Linked DNA regions of Homo sapiens: region 1 is reported to be linked to region 2. Evidence: microRNA targets listed by miRTarBase, many of them from high-throughput screens and not tested one by one. Region 2 holds a microRNA gene; the other region holds the end of a gene's coding sequence.

Region 1 (3,394 bases), not on the chromosome of region 2:
CTCCGCAGACCGGGCAAGCAGTCTCTCCCGACCTTGGGAAAAAACAGACAAAGGGGCCACCTACACCCCCCAGGCACCCAAGAAGTTGACGCCCACAGAGAAAGGCCGCTGCGCCTCCCTGGAGGAGATCCTATCTCAGCGGGATGCTGCCTCTGCCCGCACCCTCCAGCTGCGGGCTGAGGAACCCCCAACCCCTGCCCTCCCCAACCCGGGGCAGCTGTCCCGGATCCAGGACCTGGTAGCAAGGAAACTGGAGGAGACTCAGGAGCTTCTGGCAGAGGTTCAGGGACTGGGAGATGGGAAGCGAAAGGCCAAGGACCCCCCTCGGTCTCCGCCGGATTCTGAGTCAGAGCAGCTGCTGCTGGAGACGGAACGGCTGCTGGGAGAGGCATCATCGAATTGGAGCCAGGCAAAGAGGGTGCTGCAGGAGGTCAGGGAGCTGAGAGACCTGTACAGACAGATGGACCTGCAGACCCCGGACTCCCACCTCAGACAGACCACCCCGCACAGTCAGTACCGGAAGAGCCTGATGTGAGGGCAGGGTGGGGTCTGGAACTTGTCGGGTTGGACAGACTCTTATCTCCGTGTTGCTGGATAAAGCTTTTTTATTTACCTCAATCAAAAAAAGAAAACAAAAATGAACTCATTGCTCTTGCTGATGCCTGACCCCACTACAACCCTTATTGCCCCACCTACTTTCCATATGCCCCTCGTATGCCCCTCAGGTTTGAGGAAGTGACCCCGCAGCAGTAGCAGGAAGTTTTTACCCAGCCAGAGAGAGAGAAGGCACGGTAAAGACACAGTCTGACCACTCCACACACCGCCCGCCCCCAAGACGGCACAGGGAGTCCACTGCTGCTCCCAAGGATACAGTGGGCTTCTAAGCTTAGAGCGGGAGGGGGATGAGGATGTTTTCTGTTATGTCCCACCCCAGGCCTTCAGTTTGAGGGTGAAGTTTCAGCTGCCCAACTCTAGTTGTAGGGATGTGGAGGCCAGTGTCACCTGTCCGTGCACATGGAAGTGAAATTTATCCCAGCCCTGAGGAGGATTTGTGGAATTAAAATCTCCCCAGCCAGACACTGGCTTCTCATTCCTAGCAGTCTCTCATTGAGATCGAGCTGCCTGGATTTTCTTACATGAGGTGTTTCTTCCCTTCATCTTCCACACCCTTCCCAACCTTGACTCAAAGATCCACCCTTGTCGGGCGCAGTGGCTCACGCCTGTAATCCCAGCACTTTGGGAGGCCAAGGCGGGTGGATCACCTGAGGTCAGAAGTTTGAGACCAGCCTGACCGACATGATGAAACCCAGTCTCTACCGAAAATACAAAAAATTAGCCAGGCATGGTGGTGGGCGCCTGTAATCCCAGCTATGCGGGAGGCTGAGGCAGGAGAATCACTTGAACCTGGGAGGCAGAGGTTGCAGCAAGCCAAGATTGTGCCATTGCACTCCAGCCTGGGCAACAAGAGCGAAACTCCGTCTCAAAAAAAAAAAAAAAATCCAACCTTGAGTGGATGAGACTAGTTTCATTATTTGATTCAGGGCCCTAGCACAGGGGAACTAGAGACAGACCCCACAGAAGAACTGAACTAAGAATGAAACTGGTGTGTGATGCAAGCTGGGTAGGATGAAGGGGAAAACCAAACATCTGTCCAAGTTCCTCTTTCAGCCATGCTGAGGTTTCCTGTAGCCTCCCCCTCTCCTTCCTCAAACCTCTTCCATCACTAAGCAAGTCCCCACTTTAGAAAAGCATCTGGATGCCCACGCCACCACCCTCCCAGCCACCTCTGAAGTTGCCAGGCTTCCCAACATTCTTGTCTGTGGTAGGTCCCACACAACTCACTGTTCACTCTTTCCTTGGAAGTGTGTGAGATGAGGTTTAGTAACGGTGAGGTCCCCAGAAGAGCTATGAAGGGAATAATTTGATTTTGGGAAAGAAGGGGACAGAGTCTCATGAATCAAGTAAATGAGGGGTTAAAAGCCACATTGAAGTGTGCCTTGCTAGCTGCTTGATCCTCCAAGAGCAGCGGGGCTTCACTAGAGGTAAGGGGAGGAGGGGGAGGAAACGGGGCCAAGTTACATGTAGACCTGGCCATGACGCTGCCCCGATGTTATAGGAAGATGGGATAGGAGGAAGCGGGGGAAAAACCTGTGGGAGAAACAGATTCTTCAGTCCGCATTCTTCTGCTCTAACGTCACTCCTACAACCCATGTAAGCAAAATGGGGGCCTCTGTCCCCTTTCCAGAAATCATCTCTTTCCTTCACAGCTCTTCTCTGGACCTTATCACTGCTGTTAAACCATCCCTAGGGCAGAGGAATTCTTGCTCTCTCTAGTCCCTTGCCACTCTGTCATGGAGATTGTCCCCAGCTCTAGACTGTAGTTACCTAGCCTCTTCCTTGAAGAATGTGTATCCCAGTTGAGTGAGGGAAAGTGTGCAAGAGTGCCACCTTCATGTCATTCTATGGTCTCTTGGGGTATGAGGTGAGAACCCAGGCTTCCAGACTTCCTGTCCTTCAAATAGCTGCACTCTCCACAGCCCTAAGCATGGTCAGCAGAGCCATCCATTGTCACAAGTATTGAAGTCTAAGGTAGAATTATGCTTTCTTTTTACAAGTCTCTATCTTTGTATTTTACCAGCATTTTTCCTTTTCTTTTTTTCTTCCTTGTTGCTCCCACATAATGAAAAAAGACAAAAGCACAAATGACATGTGTATCCCAACATGTCAATTATCTGTGGCTCCCAGGGGAGCCAGAAGATGGAGGGAGACACTAGAGAGGAGAATGACAGGTGAAAGAAGCAGAAAAGAAAGATCGGGGACCTCACAACAGTAAGAGAGGAGCTGGGCACTGTGCTCCTGGGCTTCAGGCTCTAAAACCAACAGCTTCCAGTTCTCCAGCAGTTACTGGAACATCCAGGCCCTAGGGTGGTGAAATGAGCCCAGCTTTGAAACCAGATGGATCTGGATTCAAATTCTAACTCTGTTACTTCTTGATTATGAGGCTCTGGGCAAGGCACATGCTTTCCGAGTATCAGTTTTTTTCATCTGCAAGCTGCAGAGCTATTGGATGGGTGAGGACAATATGGAAAATGCCTGTCAGTCAGAAAGTGACCACTGCAGCTACTGTTACTGGTTTGACTCTGGGCAGTGAGCCGCTAGCTCAGTTGGAAGGAGCACTGTGTGAATGAGGCCACCGGGGTGGGGTCACTGTCACTTAGCTAGATCCAGGCCACAGGCTGTGCTGGACCTCTCTCTTCAGAGGAGAGAGCCAGAAGGGATGAAAGCATGGTCCCTGGTCTTCAAGAACTTTAGAGCTTAGCATGGAACCAGGCTTCCCACTAGAAAAATCGCTTAAGGTGCACCCTTGTGGTAGGCTGCTGGCATGAGTTCTGTT
Region 2 (3,394 bases):
ATTTTGTCAACTATAATTCCACAGCCCAGAGACCCCCACTTTTTAGTGCTGTACACTTAATGGTTTTTCAGATGTTTCTTGGACTTAATATGTTGATGAGCCTTTCCCCATGACATTTAAAACTCCTGATAAACATGAATGTAATGATGACAGAATAGTCTATGTACTATATATACACATTGTAATTCACCTGCCCACTCCTCTAAGGGTGCTTATTCAGGGTATTCTCAATTTTAGGACGAAAGCAGAAAGGCTGCCTCATGCAAACTGTCCCTACTCCCACCCAGGGGCCAAAGGACTTGAGCCGTCCTCTCATCAGGCACTGAGCGGGCAGAGAAGTGGCACAAGCTCTGCCTCCCTGCCTGGCCCGTGGCCCAGCGTGTTGCTAGGAAGGAATGTGTTTGTGCAGGTGGCGGCAGAGCTGACCTCCAGGGGTCTGGCCCTTGGGTCACCTGCTTGTCCCCCAGGAGGCCTGGCTGGGCCCCCAGCCTTTCACCTGGGTCTTGCATCTTGGAATCCCCCTGCCCCACCAAGAGCAGGCAGTGCCAGCTCCCTGGCCTTTTCCTCAGAGGTGGGGGTGGATCCCTTGGTCCACTTCCTCCCTGACCACTCAGAGCTGGCCTAGCTGCTGTGAGTCAGCCGTTCTCTCCCACCCTGGGAGACAGGGACCTCCGAGGCCGAACACTACCTTGTTTGATGACACAGACTTGTTTGATGACATCTCAACCATGTAAAGTAGGGAGATTTTACACACACCCCCAAAATCCAAATGTCCGGCCTGTCTTAACTATGGCTGATGCATGCTGCTGAGTGCTAAGGGGGCGGACTCTAAGCCTCTATTTTTATTTTATTTTTTTTAGACAGCCTCGCTCTGTCACCCTGGGGTACAGTGATGCTATCATAGCTTACTGCAGCTTCAAACTCCTGGGCTCAGGTGATCTCCCACCTAACCCCCCGGATTACAGCTGGGATTATAAGCGTGCACTGGTGCACTCGGCTGAGTTTTGAAACTTTTTGTAGAGATGGGGTCTTGCTGTGTTGCTCAGGCTGGCCTAGGCCTCTCTTGAAAGATGAGAATTTTGGCGATGCTGGGTGTGCGTTCTCACCTCCTGTCGTCCGAGGAGAGTACGTGGTGGCCGCCTTCTTAAAGGGTTCTTGGGAGCCAAGCCCTGCACAGCCCCTCACCTGCCTTACCTGGCTGTCCCCTGTAATCAGTGGACGTTGTTGCCTATCATTTAGTAATGAGAACCCAGCTGTGTAAACCTCCTAAACCACCACACAGGAATCTGGCTCTTAGCGCACCTTTCCCGAGGTGGGGGTTGCTCACCACAGGACGTTCTGCAAGAAAAGTACTAAACATGCCCTGACGGAAGCTGGAGCCAAAGTCTGTGTCTGTGAATTGTTTCCTGAGAGAGGTTTCTGGGGGTGGGCTGATGTGAGACCAGGGTCTAGGGCCTTGGGAGGGGATGGGTGGCTGGAGGACAGCGCCGGGGAAGGGTTGCTCCCCTGGGATCTGCCCTCATGGGACTGGCACCATGATGGTGTCCCCTCTTCTGGGGTCCGGATAAGCTAGGTAACCGTGGCTTCCTCATGGGGTGCACACCCCCTTCCCCCTATAAGAGCCTTGGCTGCCACAGCTTTCCTGCAAGGCAGATTGGGAGCAGGGGTGGACACAGGTTCTGAGTGTGCCCTGACCACTGGCAGACCCATCTCCACAGGCTGACTTGCCAGAGACCACCCCAAGTGGAAAATTCTGGGGGCTGGGCCAGGGTGGATCTAGGGCTCGGAGGACCTGGAGTATGTACCATCTGGGGGCCCTTTTAAAGAGAGAGAACATAAAATTACATAGACACAGGCAGGTACAGGACTTTGGGAGGGGCTCGTGTAGTGAGGGGTCCTGAGGGTGGGCTGCCGTTGGGTGGGCCCAGGGGGCATCGGGGTGGCCTTGGTTGCACTTGCCCTCTGGGCTTTCCTGAAGAGCTGGGGTTGGCTCTGTCCTGTGGAGGGAGAGGGTGCGGGAGGCTGTCAGCACCAGCCCAGGTTTCTCTCACCTGAAGTCCCAGGTGTGATGGGATGCTTGAACATAGGGGAACCTAAGGCCACAGCCTTAGAAGAAGCCACAGCCACATCAGTCATCCCTGGTGCTGGGCAGGAGGCCTGGGTGTAGGCTGGAGCTGAGGACTGAGGCTCACCTTGCTCCTGACTCTGTGCCCACAGGTAGAACACCTGAAGGAGAAGCTCATTAGCCAGGCCCAGGAAGTGAGCCGACTGCGATCTGAGCTGGTGAGGCCACAAGGCTGTCCTGGGGTAGCGCAGGGCCTGGCCTGCCTTGTGCAGATGGGCCCTGCCAGGGGCAGGGGTGCGACCCTCTCTCTCCTGAGCCCGCATATCCCACCCTGTCTCAGAAACACACCGAGAGCCTTATCCCCACCTCCTAGTACCCTCAGAGGCCTTGTGGCTCCAGGGGGTGGGAGGTTCCTTCTCTGTTGCTGACATTAAACGGGAGTGTGAACCCTGGTATAAATATGTCTCTCCTTGTGACTTTCACACTCAGAATAGGGTGGGGGCAGCAGGGAGAGCAGGCTCTGGGTCACCACCCTTCTCAACTCTGCCCTCCACTGTCTTTCTCTTGGTTTCTCTCTTGAGCTTGTTCCCTCCTCTCTTGCCCTTGCCTTTTTCTTTTTCTTTTTCTCCTTCCCTCTGCCTTTCTCCACACCTCTCCTCTCTTCCCTGCCCTTGTGCCATCTCCGCGGGCCTCTCTTCTTTCCCCCGTCATCTGCCCTCGCCACATGCGCCCCCTCGGCCCTGGCTCTCTGCAGGGGGGCACCGACTTGGAGAAGCACCGGGACCTGCTGATGGTGGAGAATGAGCGACTGAGGCAGGAGATGCGGCGCTGTGAGGCCGAGCTGCAAGAGCTGCGCACAAAGCCAGCAGGTCCCTGCCCAGGTTGTGAGCACAGCCAGGTGAGCAGAATGGCCGTGGTCCCCATGCTGGTCCTGGAGGGCCACCCCAGCTCCTCACAGTGAGCCTGTCCCTTGCACTCATCCAGTGCCTCCCAATGGCTGCAGGAGAGCGCCCAGCTCCGTGACAAGCTGTCCCAGCTGCAGCTGGAGATGGCGGAAAGCAAAGGCATGCTGTCAGAGCTGAACCTAGAGGTGCAGCAGAAGACCGACCGGCTGGCTGAGGTGGAGCTGCGACTCAAGGACTGCCTGGCTGAGAAGGCACAGGAGGAGGAGCGGCTTAGTCGGCGCCTGCGTGACAGCCACGAGACCATTGCCAGCCTGCGGGCCCAGTCCCCACCTGTCAAGGTGAGCCCTGGCCCACCTGATCTGTGCCTCAGCCCAAGGCCCCTGGCACCTGGGGCAGGGCTAGCCCATAAGGGGGGCTTGTCCTG

What was found. The annotated mature microRNA hsa-miR-6772-3p reads UUGCUCCUGACUCUGUGCCCACA and lies in region 2 at 2,194-2,216, shown strand. An mRNA with a match to its seed (bases 2 to 7 or 8) in the 3' UTR can be bound and repressed. Matches are read on the target gene's strand: a 7mer-m8 pairs with bases 2 to 8, a 7mer-A1 pairs with bases 2 to 7 and ends in A, and an 8mer does both.
Region 1: miRTarBase lists PLEKHO1 as a target of hsa-miR-6772-3p. The part of its 3' UTR that is shown has no 7-base or 8-base seed match.

What each region holds. Positions count from the first base shown.
Region 1 is chr1:150,158,989-150,162,382 of GRCh38, forward strand. PLEKHO1 (pleckstrin homology domain containing O1) reads left to right here. Exons shown (of 6, transcript NM_016274.6): 6 at 1-1,077. The coding sequence ends at 535. LINC02988 (long intergenic non-protein coding RNA 2988) reads left to right here and starts at 1,740. Exons shown (of 4, transcript NR_135098.1): 1 at 1,740-1,822. RefSeq lists enhancers at 1-369, 1,500-1,809 and silencers at 670-719, 2,420-2,489, 3,078-3,147.
Region 2 is chr16:57,771,112-57,774,505 of GRCh38, reverse strand. MIR6772 (microRNA 6772) reads left to right here and starts at 2,154; the gene lies at 2,154-2,217. KIFC3 (kinesin family member C3) reads left to right here. Exons shown (of 20, transcript NM_001130100.2): 4 at 2,218-2,283; 5 at 2,820-2,963; 6 at 3,069-3,308.